2 separate regions of the Homo sapiens genome follow, and region 2 is linked to region 1. The links come from fine-mapping of genetic effects on gene expression. A gene starts in region 1. The other region holds a variant in brackets. All regions are shown on one strand. Distances are from middle to middle.

Evidence for each region.
Region 2: its variant is fine-mapped to the expression of IL36G in monocytes after LPS (Quach 2016, PIP 0.95).

What each region holds. Positions count from the first base shown.
Region 1 is chr2:112,972,097-112,981,581 of GRCh38, forward strand. IL36G (interleukin 36 gamma) reads left to right here and starts at 5,910. Exons shown (of 5, transcript NM_019618.4): 1 at 5,910-5,982; 2 at 6,524-6,597; 3 at 7,125-7,229; 4 at 7,913-8,052. The coding sequence starts at 6,543. It also overlaps the pseudogene HMGN2P23.
Region 2 is chr2:113,073,437-113,082,921 of GRCh38, forward strand. IL1F10 (interleukin 1 family member 10) reads left to right here. Exons shown (of 5, transcript NM_173161.3): 3 at 893-978; 4 at 1,287-1,414; 5 at 1,716-2,407. The coding sequence ends at 1,928. Among named protein-coding and RNA genes, the nearest start is that of IL1F10, 10 kb to the left of the region's middle. RefSeq lists an enhancer at 4,434-5,633. The variant A/T (reference allele first, on the strand shown) is at 5,152.

The DNA of each region.
Region 1 (9,485 bases):
CCTTACTGGCTGGGCTGATTGATCCTAATTGCTCAGGGGGAAAACTGGATTGCTGCTACTCAGTAGAGGTAAATAGGACTATGTCTGGAGCCCAGGAGTTCCCCCGGAACATGTCTTGTTACTCCAGGGAATCTCTTGCTTCTTTCATGTCTGGTAGTTTCAGTCAATGGAAAATGGAAGCACCCAATAAAGAAGAGCACTGAGGACCTGGATTGCACAGAAATGGAGGCTTGACTCAACTGTAAGGTGAAGAACAGCATCCAGCAGAGGTGCTGGCAAATGTAAGCGGAACATGGGATGGATGGTAGAAGAAGGTAGCTATGATTACCAAACTTGGCTTTGGTGAGTAACTACAGAATCAAGGAGTCTCGATGTTCTATTTAACTGTTTGCTCCCTATCCCTGCCTTTTTCTCTAACCACCTTACATGAGTAACACTGGGGGTGGCTTTTAAAAGTTTCAGATAGGAGTATGACTACATTGACCTAATGTGATGATTCAGAATTTCACCTGTGAGAGGGAACACAAATGTCTTACCCAAGAAAGAAGAATATGGTCCTGAGGGGCAAGAGGCATGGACTATGCTGGATAACTTCCAATTACCTTTCCAAATCCACCCTCCATGCTTCTCTCCTGGCTGTCTGCCCAGGAGGCTGACCTGCATCTGTGGGCTTCCTTGCCTTCTGGCTTCTAGTTGCCCTTGGCTTCTGGGTTTGGCCAAGGGGGTGTAGTGAAAGGAACTTAGAGAATGGGAATGTCATGTCGGGTTAAAATCAGCGTACTTGTGCTAACTTGAATGGGAGTGGGGGTGAGGGAAAGAGGTTTCACAGTGACTCAATGGCCAATTAGATGCTCATGAATTCATGGCTTATTGCAAGGCTTTCATACACTAGCAATCATGCAAATATATTTTGCAGGGGGTTGGAGAGAGGTGGTTCTCATTGCTCTTTTCCCGGTAGGGCTCCTGGTGGCGATGCCAGATGGAAAAAAGGACTCAGAGTTCTCATGAGCAGAGCTTCTACAGGCATCTCGCCATGGCCAGTTTCTTTGTGGTTTTTATGGCCCTGCACAGGAGTGTTCATAGCCATGATCTCAGCAGCCCTTGGCTTTGCTTTCTTGTCCAGTCTTGGGAGTGCCTGACCACAGCAGGTATATGTAACATTATCCCCTCAGATGCATATGTTTATCACTTTGAGGGGTCAGCAATTTCACTGTATAGTATCATGCTGTACAGGTTTGTACAGGAGCAATAGGCTGTACAATATAGCCTAGGTGTGTGGTAGGCTGTGCCTACACTCTGTGATGTTTGCACTGTGAAACGTCATTAAGCCATGCATGACTGTATTCCCTGGTTCCTTTCCCATGGGGTCACTGCAGGCTATTTTTCTTGATGAAGGTCACAGCTCCTATTAGGTGGCCTTGTTCACAAAGTTCTTTCTCTCTCTGCGTTCTAGTAACCTCCTCTTGTCCTTTCAGGCCTAGGGGCGGCCAGAGGTATACCCCACTTTTAGTAGCCTGAGTTTCTGTACTATGCCTTGGGATTTCCCTGTACTCTACCCATATCTTTATAAATAACTCCTTCATGACATTTACCTCCAATTGCCAAATTTGAACATGTCATCTGTTTTTTTGTTAGCACCCCAATTGACACAGCATGGCTCCCAAGTTGGCCCAAATAGACTAGAAAGTCTTTGATAGTTGTAGGGGAGATATTCCTTTTTTCTACAAGATGTGAATGACTGAGCATACAGTTCTGATTGACACAGGCAGCCCTCTAATGGCCTTGGAGAAACCTGGCCTTAAGTTATGAATTAAACTTAAGACCAGAGAGAATTTTTAAAAATACTGGTCCTTGCTCACCTTATACAACTATCAGGTCAGCAACTCTGATAATTAATAATCCTAGACTTCCAATTATGTAACCTAGTAAATATTTTTATTGTTTTAGCCACTTGAATAGGATTTTTCAGGTTTCGAAGCTGAAAATAACTTAAATTGATAGACTCTTATAAGTACACATATGGGGCCAAGCGTAAACACATTATCATTTTTAATAGCCTCTACAAAATTGCTTTCCAAAAAGTCTGCAATGATTCACACGGCCATCCATGTGGTGAGTGAATCTATTGTCTCACACTATTGCCTACTATCTTTTTAATCTGTGCCTTCCTAATGGGTGGAAACTGAATCTCAGTATTGCTTTGATTTGCATCTTGCTAATTACCAGTGTGGTTTACTATAATTACTTATATTTATTGGACATTTATATTTTCTACTCAGTGAAATACTTTTTACGTCAATTGCTCATTTTTCTATGGAATTATTTGCACTTTTCCTGCTGCTTAGTAAGAATTATTTATAAACTTTGGATATTAATTATTTGTTAGATGTGTTACAAATATTTTATCTTGGGTAGTCTGTCTTTTTAAATTCATTTCATGATGTGTTTTGTCCAAAATTCTAAAATTTGGGTGATATTCAATTTATCATCTTTTTTTTTTTATATGGATTTTGCACTTTGTGTGATTTGGGGCAAAGAAGGCTAAGGGTTCTCTGTCATTTGGCTCTTTGTCTAGGAATTTCAAACTCTAGGCATTTAACCTGGACCCCTTTCTCAGGAGTTGCACTATGTGCTGTCTAATTAAGGCTTTTTATTGCTTTAGTTCTTTGTTGTTGTTGCACATAAATGACAATTTAACCAATAACTGTTTTAAATTTAGAGAAATATGCCTTTACAATAGTCCTATATGGTTTGGTTCTTTAGTCTTAACTCTTTTAATGTTTCTATTTATTACTGCCATTTTGATGTGTAGCTTTGGGGTTATTTTTGTTACTCTGTCCTTCATTTAAATAGCGTGTTGGCCTATGTGCCAAAGTCTGGGGTTTCATAGAAACCAGCTTCAGGAAGATGTAATGGATCAGCTCATAGGAAGCAAGTCTTTGATAATGGGCTTGGGCTATGTGGAGGAGCAGAGGCTTTCGGCCATGTCCATGCACATCATTCCATCTACGTTGGGTAAAGGCTTTACCACAGAGCCTATGCCAAGAGCTTCCTTGGCATTTTCCCAAGTCCACTAGAGTACAAATGGCCCCACACTGGTCTCTGTGGTTCATGGTACACACCATGTTGCCCCACCAATTTAAGCGAGATGAATGCCAACTTCTTTCCAGTGGCAATCTTCAGGCCAGGTTGCCAGCCTGCTTGTAGATAGCCCTTGATAGGTAATAGGCCACATGGCTTTGGTCCTCTTTGGGGGCCCCAAGGAGGACCTATGACTCCAGCAGAGAGCTCTGCATTTGGAGTCCGGAGTTATAGATTCTAAGTTTAATTTTACTACTAAGGTGATTTTTTTTATGGTTGGCAATGGTGGGGGCTGAATAACCTTTACTGCTCCATGGCTCCCTCTGCTTTGTTATGATTGTGTGCCTGGTTTCATGAAAAAGGTGTTGTAGAGATTCTAGAGATTGTAGTGGTGGTCAGTAATCAAGTTCTCTTACCCTACCTGCATTTCATTGATATTCCCTCAACTTAATAAGGTAATGAGCATGTTAAGTGAACAAACTAGTAGCAGGGCTTATTACCAAATGAATGTAGATTGACAGTGTCATAGAGCTTGGAAATTAGAATCTGGACTAAGTGTTTTCTTAAAATCATTTTCATATCTAGGGAATTTGGCCTTGTCAGTACTTATGGTAATTAAATTCAAGCCACACTTAATGATAAGCATCATTGTCATTGTTCTCCATGATAATAAATCGTTGATAATAAATAAAACAATCAATGGTAATAAATAAAATATAGCAACGCTATGTTCTTTACTTTTTATAACCAGAATCAATATTGATGGTTTTCTCAAGTACAGCCAGGGTATCATGTAATTATAACATCCATCCCTTCCACTTTAAGATAAACGTTCGGGGCCATTTCTTCAGTAGATGTGATCTCTGCTCTTTACTGATCAACCCCAGTGATTCAGTTCTCCCCTTTTATCATCATCACTCCTACTCCCTCCAATTTCTCTGATACTTATTCACACTAACAGTTAAACTAGGGACTTCAGGATGGATGCTGAGTGCTGGGAATTCTAGGAAGGGCTGGATTCTCTGAGTGCTTGGAATCTATTGAAGGGTCAGGACCAAGTGGAATGAGGGCGGAGGCTGAAGAGGACACATGTCACCCTCTTTTATAGTTTTTGCAACCTTCATCTGGGCGTGGGAAGTTCTAGCTGTACCCACAGGCTTTTGAACCAAAGAAAATTCAGCTGTTAGAGCTGTGTCCTGTGAGTCCTCTGAGCATCCTCTTCTTGACCCCTCCCCTCCACCTTCATGCTCCAAGCATTGACCAGACTGTACTCTCTTTTCAGAGGTCTGAGCATCAATTTGGCAGAGAACGCCTCACCTCCGACTCATATCTGGGGATAAGTCCTACAAAAGCGCTCCTTTGAGACCTAGGTTCTTTTGTTCCCTTTTGTTTCCTTCCTGTAGTTGTTACTATCTGAGATACCACAGCAATCCCTTAATCTTCTTTGGCTTTCCAACACACGTGTATCTAGTTCCTTTTATTCAATTCCCTTTGTTTGCAATTCCTAGCATGGATTCTGCTTTCAGAGGGATCCCAGTTGGAAATTCAGGCTTAAGGGATTTGGGGGGTCAAATGATGGGAATTTTAGATGCTGTTTTGTGGTGAACATCCCAAGAAAGGAGTTATGTTGACTGATGTGTAATGGAGGGGATTTTTAACAGGGCAATGGAGACTCAAGTGAGGTGGCACTGGCTCAGGTTGACTTTGAACAAAAGTGCACCTGGCATTACCACACTCTTTCCTAGGGTCACAGAAACACTGGAAGCCAAAAGTGATAGAATTGGGGCCATGGCAGGAAAGGACTGTGTTCTTCCAAGGCCAGAAAGGAGATTAGGGTGAAAAGTAAGAGACGTTGAGTCAGGAGACTCTTTGCAGGGCTGGGAAGAGGGGCTCATGGATGAGCTTATCTGGAAGGTTCTGTCTCATTCTTTGTGCTTTTCTTCCTTATAGATGGGTAAACCTGAAGCTGTTAGTGCTTCAAGTCTGTCTCCTAAAACTCACTTCACTCTAGTAGTTAACTTATACCTCAGTAAATTTTTAGGCTTGGCTACAGCAGATAGGATGGGGTGTATAAACAAGATATAAAAATAACTATTACCACTGATCAGGAACCTAGGGCAGAGGGTGGGGGATAAGCTGGCATCTGGGGCTCAGATTTGGGAGAAATCGCTGCCCACCTCTTTACTTCCTTAGGCAGTTCTGGAGTCCACTGCATTTTGAGGGTACCTGAAACTAGGATTGCCTCAGTTAAAAGACCAGTCTGCATAGTCCCTGTGGCTCCCCATGTGGATGGAGCTGAAAGAGTGTTAGGTAGGGGAGCTCTACTGCCTGGCTTTCCATTCAGGTGTGGCCTTAGGTGGGGTAGTTGAGAAATGCCACAGGGACCTTGCCTGAGACGTGTGGCTAATTTTGCTCTTACAGGATGCCTTTAGCCTGACTGCAGAGGGCAAGGCTCCCAGTCCCAGGAGATGGAGTCCCTGACATGAGAGTGCCTGGCATTTCCAGTTCTAGCTCTAGAATGACATGACAGGAGAGCTGAACTCTGGGAAATTCCCTTAGTTTCCCCTTTATGAGAAACCTAGGATCTGTCATCAACCTCATTTCCTTGTGGTTGATTTTGTGCGGATTGGCTCAACACTTATTTCTCAGCGAGCCCGGACAGGTGATACTTGTGCTAATTCTGTGATTTCTTCCTCCGAGCCTCACAGGATCTTCTGGTAGGAGGAGCTGGTTTTCTTTCATGTCATACGTTTCTCATGCCCCACCCAGGAAGCTGGAGCCTCCTTCTCTGCTCATCCAGATAAATGATCCAGGCTCCATTAGAACCCATCACTGACCTTGGAAGCTGCTGGAGCCACGATTCAGTCCCCTGGACTGTAGATAAAGACCCTTTCTTGCCAGGTATAGTCAATAGCTGGAAAACCTCTTCTCCCTCCCTCTGGAGCCTTTCCTCTCATCTGTGCTTTGGGCTTAATGAAGGGAAGGGCCACATCAGGCTGGCTCTGTGCTTTGTCCTATGTGTGGCTGCTTCTTACTGGGGAGTTGCTGGGATCCTGGCAGAGTGGCCCTGGCATGGGACCCTCCCCTGCTCCTAGGCAAAAACAATGCCGATGAAGGGGTGGAGGCTTCAGAGAAGAGGAGTCAGGGCATCAGGTGCCTGTGGGTTATTTAAGGTCAAATTTTATGCCTGGCCTTCGAACTCCTAGGGGAGACACTACCATACTATCTGGATCTCCAGGTGGAGGAAAATTCTACCTGTTCTCCCTTTGCTGATGCTTCCTTCAAGTTTCGTCCCAGATGTGGCTCAGAACTTCTGCCCAGAGCTTCGTGTCAGGCCAGGTTTCCCAGCTCCCTGTCTAGAATGAGGGCCTGTGGAGCTAGTGTCCTGGAAGGTCTTGGAAACATCTCTTGTGGTTCATCTGTTCTATGTCTGCTTTCACAGGTGCTGAGACAACCACACTATGAGAGGCACTCCAGGAGACGCTGATGGTGGAGGAAGGGCCGTCTATCAATCAAGTGAATCAAATGCTGTTGGGATGGGGCTCTGGAGGCTTAGGCCCTCTGCACTCACGCTATCTCCTGTGGAAGCCCCAGCCTTCTCTGCTCCTCTCTGTACACTGCCCTTCCCACCTGGTGCTGCCCACCTACCACTGGGCCCTGGGCTTCTGGAGGGTGGGAGCTATTGCTTAGTCACTGATCCAGCTCCAGTCCCCAGCACCGGGGCCAAGCACAGAGTAGGCACAAAAGAGGGTAGCTGGGCCTTGGCACACAGGTTCTGTGAGACTGCTCATTGCCCTCTGTCTTGATAGTTTGCCCTCTTAAACCAGTGACTTCCCTTGGTAGCCCTTGCCTTCCTCACCAGAGCTCACAACTTCACTAGAAAGAAAGGCTAGGCTGATGGGTGATGTGAGTGCTGTCAGTTTGGGGATGCAAACCCCACACCTTCCTTACAAAATGGCCTGGGTTAGATACTTTTCTCCTGGGTCTAGTAAAGCAGCCTTGATTATAATATTTCTTCATTTTTTTCTCTATCCCAAAATCAGTGTGTAAACCTATTACTGGGACTATTAATGATTTGAATCAGCAAGTGTGGACCCTTCAGGGTCAGAACCTTGTGGCAGTTCCACGAAGTGACAGTGTGACCCCAGGTGAGTGGTCACCCTGTGCCTTCCCCACTGTTTGCACTGCTGTGGCTGGGAAGCTGGCATCAGCCTTTTGTAAAAGTGTGACTTTACAATGGGGCCCACCAGGAGTGGGGAGAATTTCACACCTAATTGGGAAGAGAAGTCAGGGAGAACTTTGGGTTCCACTAAGATGAAGAAGCCAGAGATGGTGGAGGAGCCTCCAAGGGAATAGGAAAGCTGCTGTCAGTCATCTGAAGCCCTGTCTTATGGAAGACTAGTAGCTTGTTCTGCATGACTTCAGGGTGTCCTAAAATGACTAAATGGGTGAATACCACAGAAAGGCAGGTTTCAGCATCACATTGGGAAAAACTTGCAAAAGGGACCAAGCTCTCCAAGAATCAGAGGGGCTGCTTGATGTAGGAGCTCCCCATCTCCATGTGCTCAAGCAGAGGCGTGAGAATCTCAAGAGCATACTCTGTTGTCTGCTTAGCTCTCTGTGTTTGCTCATTTACTAGGGCAGTGATTGGCACATGGTATGAATGAATGAATGAATGAATGAATATGGGGGTTGGCCATTTGGTGGGTCTAGTTGGGATTACACTCTTCAGCTCTCTTCCAGATCCACTTGAGGATACTGCCCTGCTAAATCAAATAATCTTTCTGACTTCAAAAGGAAACTGATACCATCTCTCCTCTTATCTTTACAGTCACTGTTGCTGTTATCACATGCAAGTATCCAGAGGCTCTTGAGCAAGGCAGAGGGGATCCCATTTATTTGGGAATCCAGAATCCAGAAATGTGTTTGTATTGTGAGAAGGTTGGAGAACAGCCCACATTGCAGCTAAAAGTGAGTAGCTAAGAAAAATATTTAAAAAGCCTTTCCTTTTAGAAGTGTTTGGTTGAATACCTAATTTTAGAATTAAAAAAGAAATAGTCTCATCTTCCTAAGCATATTTATTCCCAGCCTCTTTTAAGTTATGTGCATGCAATACACTTTTCTTTTTATTCTGGCTGTCAGTAGTTAAGGTCCTTGTTTTGCTTTTTTTTTTTCCAAGCCAAACTGCATCCAGCTTTATTAAAGATACTTTCCATAAACATTCATGGTATTTCAGGCAGGATATGGGCAGACAATTGTTAAGAGTATGCAGCAAACTTCAAACTCCCTTGTTCAAAGGACTACCAAAAATCAGAAAGCCACTATAAAACTCAATGAAGTCTTCATCTGATGCTCTGAACAGGGAGAGTTTAGAGTGAGAGTTGACATTTCACATTTAGCATGTGGTTTAAACTTTTCACAAGCCAACCCTGACTTTCAGGAAGTGAAATGAAAATGGTAGAATTTATCTGAAGATCCACGATCTAGAAACAGAACCACTGCTCTTTTGACAGGTGCCATCTCAGTGGCATCACTGGAAAGTCCAGAGTGCCTGACATACTGGTAACCAATGATTGAGGGCCAGGTCCCAACAGATGTCTGGCTTAAAGGAGTTAAATCTATGCTGAAAGATGGAAAGGGAGAAGAGGACATAAAAATGAATTTATTTTCCATACCACAAGGCTTTTCTGCCAAGGTGGCCATGTGTGTCAAAGTCAGAGAATCCCTCCTCCTGGGAGCCAAGAGGAACTCTCTCAAAACTAGAAGGGAAAGGTGTTTTCCCCACATCGATCCAGCTTTGGAGACATTCTATTAGTGACATATGCCCCTTCCCCTAAAAACAACAATGAAGTGTTCTGGGTGCTAACAACATAGCTTAAAAAGAAAAGTAAAACAAAATTCTGCATTTTTATAAAACTTGATAAAAAATAGTTTTTCAAACTGTACAGTCACCAGAAGTACACAGTTATCAAAAATGCACACACTACACTTGGCATCTGCAGCACCTTCAGCTTTCTGTGCCTTCCCTGTTTTGGCATCTCTATTTTCTGCAGAGTTATTCCCCTCCTTGCCAGCATCAGCTTTTCCCTTTTTCCCTTTGGGTACCTTCTCTCCCTTCTTTGCAGGGGCATTTTTAGGCTTGGCCTCTGGATTTGGAGGAGCAGGTTTAGCAGACAACTTTGCGGGCCTTCTCTGTGGTTCGTCCTTCACCTTGGCTTATCTCCTTCAGCATCCCCTTCAGCCTTTCTCCTGGGCATGGTGGTGGCCACCCCAGCGGGATATAGGCACTGGATGCAGGATGCAGCATTGTGCGGGTTTTGGTCAGTCTGGGGGCTGTTCTTGCCTCTTCTTCACACTGCTCTGTCTTTCTTAACCTTTGATATATTCTTGGCCATCATTTCTTC
Region 2 (9,485 bases), 100 kb after region 1:
AGGTGACAGCCTGGCTGGGAAGCAAGACACATACATAGGAAGCACATAAATGACAAAGCAGATGTCAGCACTTCAGGGCATCTAATCTGGGTTCTGGTCTCCAAATAGAATGCTGCTGGCATGTGAGTTGTCACATCTGGGTTGTCAAGGTGGCAAGGGGAATGCCAGATAACACGCCCAGGATCTTTCCGGAAGTTTATTTTTATTGTACAAGTGAACCTGCTTTAAATATGTACAGTCATTAGCTAAGGGTATTATCGTTAGCTGTTATTGAGATAGAAAAATCCCCTGGAGGTGGTGGAATTTGTCCAGAGGTTCTGCCCTAAAAGGTTAATGAGAGCTCTCCAGCCCTGACAGCAGCTGACAGGCATCTTTGAAACCAACTAGGTGACTGAGCTAATACCCTGCATGACTTTGAAGCCTTTAAAATATCTGAAAAGCAAATCACACTTCAGTATACACTCAATCTCTGTACTAAAGAGAATAAACATTTATAAACAATTAGGGCAGGCCCAAAAAATTTAAGATAAGGTCCACTGTATCCCAAAGTCATCTGAGCCTCACTAAGAAATTTCTCAGGAAGCCAGGAACATTTTCTTTACCCCTCTGTCAGAGGGCATTGGCTCTCCGTTCTCCTCTGAAGGCCTCCCCAAGCCATGAGAAGGCAGGAAGCACAGCCTCTGAAAAGCAAGAACACAGGAGACCTTCCTTGCTTTAAGGCTGGCCTGGTCTTTACCTGCTCTTGGGAGTGACCATTCCCCTCTTACCACCTGTGAAGGAGAGAAAATCGCCCAAATGCTCAAGGTGGTGATTCAGAGCATGGAAGTGGAAGGGCTTGGGGGCCAGTGGTGCATAAAGGGAATGGGCCATCAGCACTGTCATACTGTTTCAGAATTAAATATGCAGACCAGAAGGCTCTATACACAAGAGATGGCCAGCTGCTGGTGGGAGATCCTGTTGCAGACAACTGCTGTGCAGGTGAGCTTCTGGGGCCTCCACCCCATGCTCCATCTGCCATAGGCCCTCCCTTCTCTTCTTCCCTTTCCTCCCCAGCAGAGGGTCAGCAGCTGCCCCCAGTGACAGTGAGAAGGGCCAGAGAGCAGCTGTGGCCTCTCCTAGCGAGGGGACATGACTCCTGCAGAAGTCCTGGCTCACCGTCCAGTCTGCATGCAGGGCCAGGCCAGGTGTGCCCATGTCCAGTTCCTTCCTGCCTGAGCCTTTACCTGCCAAGAGCCTGCAACATGGGGTTCCCTTGTCCCTTGACTCTTCTCTCTCTTCCCTCCTAGAGAAGATCTGCATACTTCCTAACAGAGGCTTGGCCCGCACCAAGGTCCCCATTTTCCTGGGGATCCAGGGAGGGAGCCGCTGCCTGGCATGTGTGGAGACAGAAGAGGGGCCTTCCCTACAGCTGGAGGTGAGAGGCCTCTCCCCATTCTAGGGGACACTGCAGACCTGGCCTGACCCCTGGGATGCTCTGGCATCTTTGTGCCTATCTGTGGATTCCCAGCCAGGTCCACATGTCCTACTTCCTCAGGTTTCCACCATCTCCCTCTGCACCTAGCACCAAGACCCTTGCCCTCTAGAATCTGCAGAAGGCAGTCCCTTGGGTAAAAACCAGCCCTGTCAGGTCCTTTTTTGGCCAAGCCCCAGAGGCCTCCAGGGCTAACACCTCCATCAGCACTCTCATTCTGCAGCCATCCACCTTGCCCCCACAGGATGTGAACATTGAGGAACTGTACAAAGGTGGTGAAGAGGCCACACGCTTCACCTTCTTCCAGAGCAGCTCAGGCTCCGCCTTCAGGCTTGAGGCTGCTGCCTGGCCTGGCTGGTTCCTGTGTGGCCCGGCAGAGCCCCAGCAGCCAGTACAGCTCACCAAGGAGAGTGAGCCCTCAGCCCGTACCAAGTTTTACTTTGAACAGAGCTGGTAGGGAGACAGGAAACTGCGTTTTAGCCTTGTGCCCCCAAACCAAGCTCATCCTGCTCAGGGTCTATGGTAGGCAGAATAATGTCCCCCGAAATATGTCCACATCCTAATCCCAAGATCTGTGCATATGTTACCATACATGTCCAAAGAGGTTTTGCAAATGTGATTATGTTAAGGATCTTGAAATGAGGAGACAATCCTGGGTTATCCTTGTGGGCTCAGTTTAATCACAAGAAGGAGGCAGGAAGGGAGAGTCAGAGAGAGAATGGAAGATACCATGCTTCTAATTTTGAAGATGGAGTGAGGGGCCTTGAGCCAACAAATGCAGGTGTTTTTAGAAGGTGGAAAAGCCAAGGGAACGGATTCTCCTCTAGAGTCTCCGGAAGGAACACAGCTCTTGACACATGGATTTCAGCTCAGTGACACCCATTTCAGACTTCTGACCTCCACAACTATAAAATAATAAACTTGTGTTATTGTAAACCTCTAAGTTTGTGGTAACTTGCTATAGCAGCCATAGAAAACTACTACAGAGCCTTATTCGACCCTGTGTCCAGTGTTTGATGCAAGAGACTTGGTGAGTTCTTAGAAGGCTACCTGCAGCTTCTCCTCCAGTCCATCTGCTATGGAGCCTCTAGAAACAACCAAGAAGCCCCAGGCAGAACTCAGTGTCCTCTGCACAGGGACAAAGCCCTGGGCTGCTTACAACTTAAATTCTAGCTCAAGTCTTGTGATTTTCTACCAGATACTTCACAGTGAATCCACAATTCCGTGGTTGACTGTTGGTACAGTCCGCTATCTGCCAGGTGCTTAAGTAGTAGCAAGGGCCAGACAATATGTGTGTCCTGGATGTGTTGAGTTTAAGGTTACAGTGGAGTCTCTAAGTTGAGGTGATTTGATATAGCTGGGAGTACAGGGCTGGAATTCAGCTGAGAGTTTGCAATTGGAATTCATACTCATCCTCAGAGCTCAAACGCTTCTCTGTTTCATGGAAAATATTTGACTGGGATCAAGCTAGAGCAGAAAGCCCATGGTATCAGGACTCAGAGAAGGCACAGGCTGCTGGCGCTGTCCCTCTGTTGTATAACTACTTAACATTCACCTAGCGTGTTCTGAGTTCCAACCATGGGGCAGCAATTTTAAGAACATTCTGTTGTCATCCTCAGAATGACTCTTCAAGGCAAGCATTTTCACCTCCATTTGACAGATGAGGAAACTGGACTAAGAGAAGTGAAATAACTTGCTGAAGGTCATATGGGCTATCAGTGTTGGAGCTCAAGATAAAACTTGGTGCAGCTGACCTCAATGCCATTTTGCAAATTTTTATTCCACTTAAGGAGCTGAGGATAGAATGGTGAATAAAACCAAACTTCCTTGTAGCTGATAATTGAAAGGGAGAAACACTAAACAAGCAAATAAACAAACAAGAAAACAGAAAGGGCACTTTTCATGATTAGAAGGTGAGGGCAGCAGGTATTCAATGGAAATATTAGATGGGGGGGTCAGGGGAGGTTTTTTTTTTTTGTTGTTGTTGTTGTTTTTTTACTTTTTTGAAGAGGTAACATCTGCACTGAGGTTATGGACAGGAAGGAACTGTGACTAGAAATAATCAAGGCAAAAGAGTAGCAAATGTGTTGGCCCTGAGACAGAAAGGAGCTGGTATGTTCAAGTAACAGTAGAAGGCTGGGGTGGGGGCTGGAGCCTGGAGAGCAAGGGAGGAGTAGGCAGTGAGCAAGACCAGCAGGGTTGGGTCATGTGTGGCCTTGAAGGCAAAGTACAGGCTTCCAAGTATTAAGTGTGACGGGAGCTACACGATAGGCTCTGATAATGTTTAGGTTCTTTCTCTGAGCTGCCTCTCCACAGCCTGTATGTGCCCCGGGAAATTGATCACCTGGCTGGCCCATTATAACTATGTGTTTACATGGTGGGACTCAATTTTATGTCAGCTGTGGCCAGAACAGCTGCTGGTAAATGCAGAAGAGGCTGAGTAAATGCAAAATCTTAAACAAGTTAATGGATAATCACACTTGATTCCTATTCCTCCTCCTCCTCCTCCCCTTCTTCTTCTTCTTCTTCCTCTTCTTCTTCTTCCTCTTCTTCCTCCTCTCCTCCTCCTCTTCCTCCTCTTCTTCTTCCTCCTCCTCCTCCTTCTTCTCCTTCTCCTCCTCCTCCTCCTTCTCCTCCTCCTCCTCCTCCTCCTCAGGACAGGGTCTTGCTCTATCACCCAGGCTGGAGTACAGTGGTGCAATCATGGCTCACTGCAGCCTTGACCTCCTGGATCAAGCCATTCTCTGCCTCAGCCTCTTGAGTAGCTGGGACCACAGGCATGCATCACCATGCCCAGCTAGGTTTTTTTTAATTTTTTGTAGAGACTGGCTCTCGTCATGTTGCCCAGGCTGGTCTTGAACTCCTGGGCTCAGGTGATCTTCCCACCTCAGCCACCCAAAGTGTTGGGATTACAGGTGTGAGCTGCTACATCTGGCCAATCACTTGGTTCTTATGGGACATTCATCATACTGTGTGAGAAGAGCTATGGTACCAGGTAGAGACACCATTGTAGCCTAGAGGTGGAGCTGGCAGGGAGGGCTGGGCAGGGCTTCACAGAAGAAAGAGCATATAATCTGGGCCTCAGAGAAAAAGCAGGTGTTTTCCAGGCAGAGAACGCAGGGATGGGCATCCCAGGCAGAAAAACTGCTCAGGAAGGTGTGATGATGGAGAAGAGCTCCCAGCACATCTGAGGTGAGTCATCAATGTGGCTGGGACCCAGGGCTTGGACTGAGGAGTGGCTGCAAATTCACATGAGAAGATGGGTGGCTCCTGATTGCTAATGCCTTGTGAAGGAGTTTTTATCTGGGAGGCCCCAAGGAATCATCCAGGTATTTCAGGCAGGACCCAGATTTTAATCCTGGGCCCCTCAGATCAGCACTGGGCCAACACAGATGCTACTGGGTCCTCAGCTCTTCTCAGCCACCCCCTCCCTCCCCTTCTCCCTCCCTGACTTCTGTTTAGCACTGCCCCGGGGTCAGCTTCCATGCTGTGATTTCACAGTCAGCCTGACCCCTGCTTCATCTTCCCTGACCAGTTCATCACCTTCATGCATGTGTTGAAAGACAAACTTTGGCATATTAAAATTTTAAGGAGTTTATTTGAGCAGAGAATGATTCATGAATCACAAGGTGCCAAATTGCAAGTGATTCAGGGCTCCACCCAGGGGCTACCGGAAAACC[A/T]TTTATAAGTTGTTCAGGAAGCAAAAGGAAGAAAAAAATTCATTGGTTAAGTGGAAAATCCTTAGTTGCAGGTTAGTCGGCGGTTCCTGATTGGCTAAGCTTAAGTTTCGTTTTCTTAGTCAATGACCATTCACTCTGGGTTGGGTTTTAGTTTACTTAGGCAGGAACCCAACACGCTGGAGTCATCTCAGCCTAATACCTTCCCAATTAATTATTTTAACACATGGTAACTCATTTCTGCTGGCCCTTCCCTTGTGAACTGTGCCCATGGACCACCCAGGCAAATGCAGGCCTCCTCCTACTTACTAGTGGTGCTGTTCCAAGTTGAATCATGTTCTCTATATAACTAAAAAAAATTTTCACATGTAAAATATGCCAATTCTCTAACAGTGCACAGAAGAGGAAGAGGACATAAAGACTTAGAAGACATGTCTCTATGACTGAAGGACACATAGTGCAGATGGGAAAACCAGACCTTGTGAATAAAAGCTCATATTTATTGACTGCAAGACACTCCAAATAGCACTTAGAATCAAATTCTGCAGGACTGTGGTAGAAATAGTGATGGGACTTTCTGGCACTAGGGTTTAAAAGTAAGGAATGGAGGCAATTTCTGACAGGTGCAGTTCAGCGATGCCAAGAGTATTCTTCTCCCACGCCCCAAGGCTCATTCCTTAAATTCCTTCTCCTCCCTAGAAACCACACCAAAGTCTTCACTCCAAAACCTAACCAGGCTAGAGGGTTATTATTATGTGAATTCTAGGGAGAGGTACACTTTAGGTCTTATCCACTATTTACATCTCAGAATGAACTGGTAGGTCCAGAGAGAGAGCAAACAGGCAATTAAACACAGTGTGGCCAGCTTTCGGTCAGGTAGCACCAGGAGCAGGGTGGGTGGGGAGGGTGAATGTGTGTGTCTGTATGTGCATGACGTGTCCATGTATGTGTATGTGTGTGCTGTGTGTGCATACGTGCTTACAAGAGACTCCAGATGTAGGCAGCAGTTGATTCACAGGGGGCCTAGTCTTTGTTCCAAGAAGCTATGGAACAACTTCACACAAGAGGGCGATGAACCCAGGGTCTCCTATAACCTGTGTTTCCTAAGTCATTCCACCAGGATTCAGAATCTAGTCACTCTTCCCTTTGACCCAAATTTTCATCTCGCGATCCTAGGCCCACCTCTCGCATCACAATAGCCCCTAGGAATACCGGCTCAAAACATTGTACAGAAAACTCCGCAGGACACACAACTCATGTCAGTTCTAGGGAAATCTAAACTCAGATTTAAGGAGGAAACAGTAAAAGTGAAGGAAAATGCAGACAACTTTAATGGATACTAACTTTTCCTTGATATAATTCTCTAAAATATACAGCTACTTCATAAATGAACTTGACAGAAACAAGTGTAATGAATATAAACAGTAAAGTTAACATCTTGGACTGAAGCACTGGCATTCGGTTTACCTGACCTTATTTCTGGTTGGATTTTACATTTGCATAACTAAAAGGGTTCACCAGAATTCTACCAAAACACAGTCTATCCCCAGAGCAGATTCCAATCTCCGCCCTCAAAGGCACAGACTCCACGCTATCTAGAGGCTTGATCCCCCTGCCCATTTCTGAGGCTGGGAGCCTGCAGTGTGGCCTTTGGGCTAAAGATGGCGACAGAGATCAATGTTGGCGCTGCCTTTTTGGGGCTAGGTTCTGAATGAGCTCTAACATTTAATTCTTCAAATACTTAGCAGCTACTGTGTGTCAGCCCTTGTGCCTCAAATCCCCGCCTCACTTACAGTAGATGCATCCTTCCACGCAATGCGTGAGAGTAGAACTGGATCCTGTGATGACTTCAGGAAGTCCGGGTGTCCATTCTGTTGGGTAACAATTTTTGTTAGCTCCCCCTTGTCACGAGGGACACAGCCCCTGCTCTCTAGGAGTTTGGAGCTTAGGAGGGAAGGTAGATATTAGACACATACTCATTTCGACATTTTTCCCACCTATGTGAAGGAGCATCACACGAATGCTTGATCCCTTCTCCCCATGACAGAGACGTTGCTGTGAATCTGTCTCCTGTACACTCATTCCCTCCAATTCCCTTGGATGTTCTTGCCCAGGCTCTGGTCACAGAATTGGGTGACAAAGGATGCTGGGAGCCTTGAGTTCTAGCAGAGGCTCTTCCATACTGGAATATTTCTCACAGACATTTTCTGAAGGTCCATAGTCACAGGACCCATGATACAAAAAATAGCACTGGTTATGTAAGTTTGTCTGCATAAAGGACAGCAGACGTAGGTATCAGCTAGTTATGCATTTTGTAGACTGGTTCCAGTGCACACATTCCAATGAGTGCTCATAGGTTTATGTGAGAAAATGTGTTATTTTTGATACCTTCTTCCACATGCCTCTCCCTGTTCACACCCTCTGCTTCAGACACTGGTCTCCTCACAATTCTCCAAAGACACACTCTAGGCACGATGCTACTCCAGAGCTCCAGCAGTAGCCTTGTGTTTTGAACACTTGTTCCCCAATTACCTGCCTGGCTTGTTTCCTCAGTGAGGCCTACGCTGGTTACCCCCGTGAAAACTGCAATATGCACCCCCTCAAATCTCAGCACCCTTAGATTACCTATGGTACTATCACATTCTAATACACTCTATAATTTATTTTTTATTTACTGTACTTTTTTTCCTTTATCCTCCACTAGAATGCAAGATCCACGGGCAGAGGATTTTCTTTTTGCCTTGTTTATGTATTACCAGCATGTACAAGCATTTATGACGTGTCAAGCACTCAGCAACATTTGCTGAATGAAGAAAAGAACTCAAATAGGATTCCCAAAAGGGTCCTACTTAGAGGTCATGCTCTGCAGAGACTAGCACCAGGGCCCCTGTCCAGATTTATTAGGAAAGACTGTGGCATCAGGTGGGAGTAGTGGGAAGAGGGTCTAGTCTCCAGAAGGAGGGCTGGTGAGGGGTGGACAGGATATCAGGGTTTCCAGTCAATATCTGAATCACTTTGCATGGTGTCTCAGTTATCTATTGCTGAGTAACGAACCAACCCACAATGCAGTGATTTAAAACATCAGTGATTCATTATTCCTTCTGATTCTGTGAGTTGACTAGGTGGTTCCTCTGCTGATCTTGCCAGGGCTCTGTTGCACTCAGCTGGAGGCTCAACTCAGCTGGAAAGTCCAAGATAGTCTCTCCCATGTCTGGCTGTTGGTGCTGGCTGTTGGTTGGGGGCCTTGGCTATTCATGTGTCCTCCCATCCTCCAGTAAACTGGAATGACTTTCTTACATGGCTATCTTAGTGTTGCTTCTCAAAAAGGGAAAGGTAGAAGCTGCAAATGCTCTTGAGGCCTAGGGTCCAAAACTCACATTTGTCAGGAAGGACTGTGGCAGTGGGTGGGAGTAGTGGAGAAAGGGTCTAGTCCCCAGAAGTGGAGCTGGTGAGGGTGGATGGGATACTGGGGCTCCCAGCCAATGTCAGAAGCACTTTGTCATAACCTGCCTCATGTTATTCACTCCTAGCATAGCCTGTTGGTCTAAGCAAGTCCCAAGGCCAGCCCTGATTTATGGAGACGTGGGTAGAGAAATGGATTCTTCCTCTGAAGGGGAAGATCTGCAAAGAATCTGTGCCCAAAGTCACTGTAAACAAATGGAAGAGGAGGGGGTAAAGCACAGGCTGACTGATTCGTGAATGTGCACTCCTGACCATCATGCTATGCTGCCTCCATGAGAAACTCTGACATGGCTGTGTAGCCAGCAATTCATTCATTCATTCTTTCATCAAATGTTACTGACCACCTGCAATGTTCAAGTGCAGAACTGGGCAGGGGGCATACAGAATTGAATGGGGTCCAAGATTTGGTGCTCCTAAGGAAGATGAGAAAGCCAGCCTTAGCCAAGCTCTCTCAAATCTTCTTCATCTTGCTCTGTGGTTTTAATGCTAACTAGGAACCCAAGGGAGAGGGTCAGCCCTTGGAATGTCTTCCAGAGGAAGGTGAAGCCCAGCTGGAGTCCCAGTCTGTGGCAAGTAAACTGGGAGAAGCAAGGACAGGCTTAAGGCTTAGCTTCTGTGCCAGGGGCTATGTGTAAGGTTTGACTTCCTAGCCTTCTCAGGTTCACACACTACTCCTCATTCCTTCATGCCCTCCCAAGCCCTGAATTCAATGTTGGGCAACAGTGAGAGCTTAATCAATGGCTTTGAATGATTCTTAGGCAAGCTGAGAGGAATATCAACAAATGTTTTATCCGATATTCCCAAGAGTAGCCTGACCCAAATCCAAGATTATCTCCATGGCCTGCCCCTTTACATCAACTCAGAGGATGCTGCTG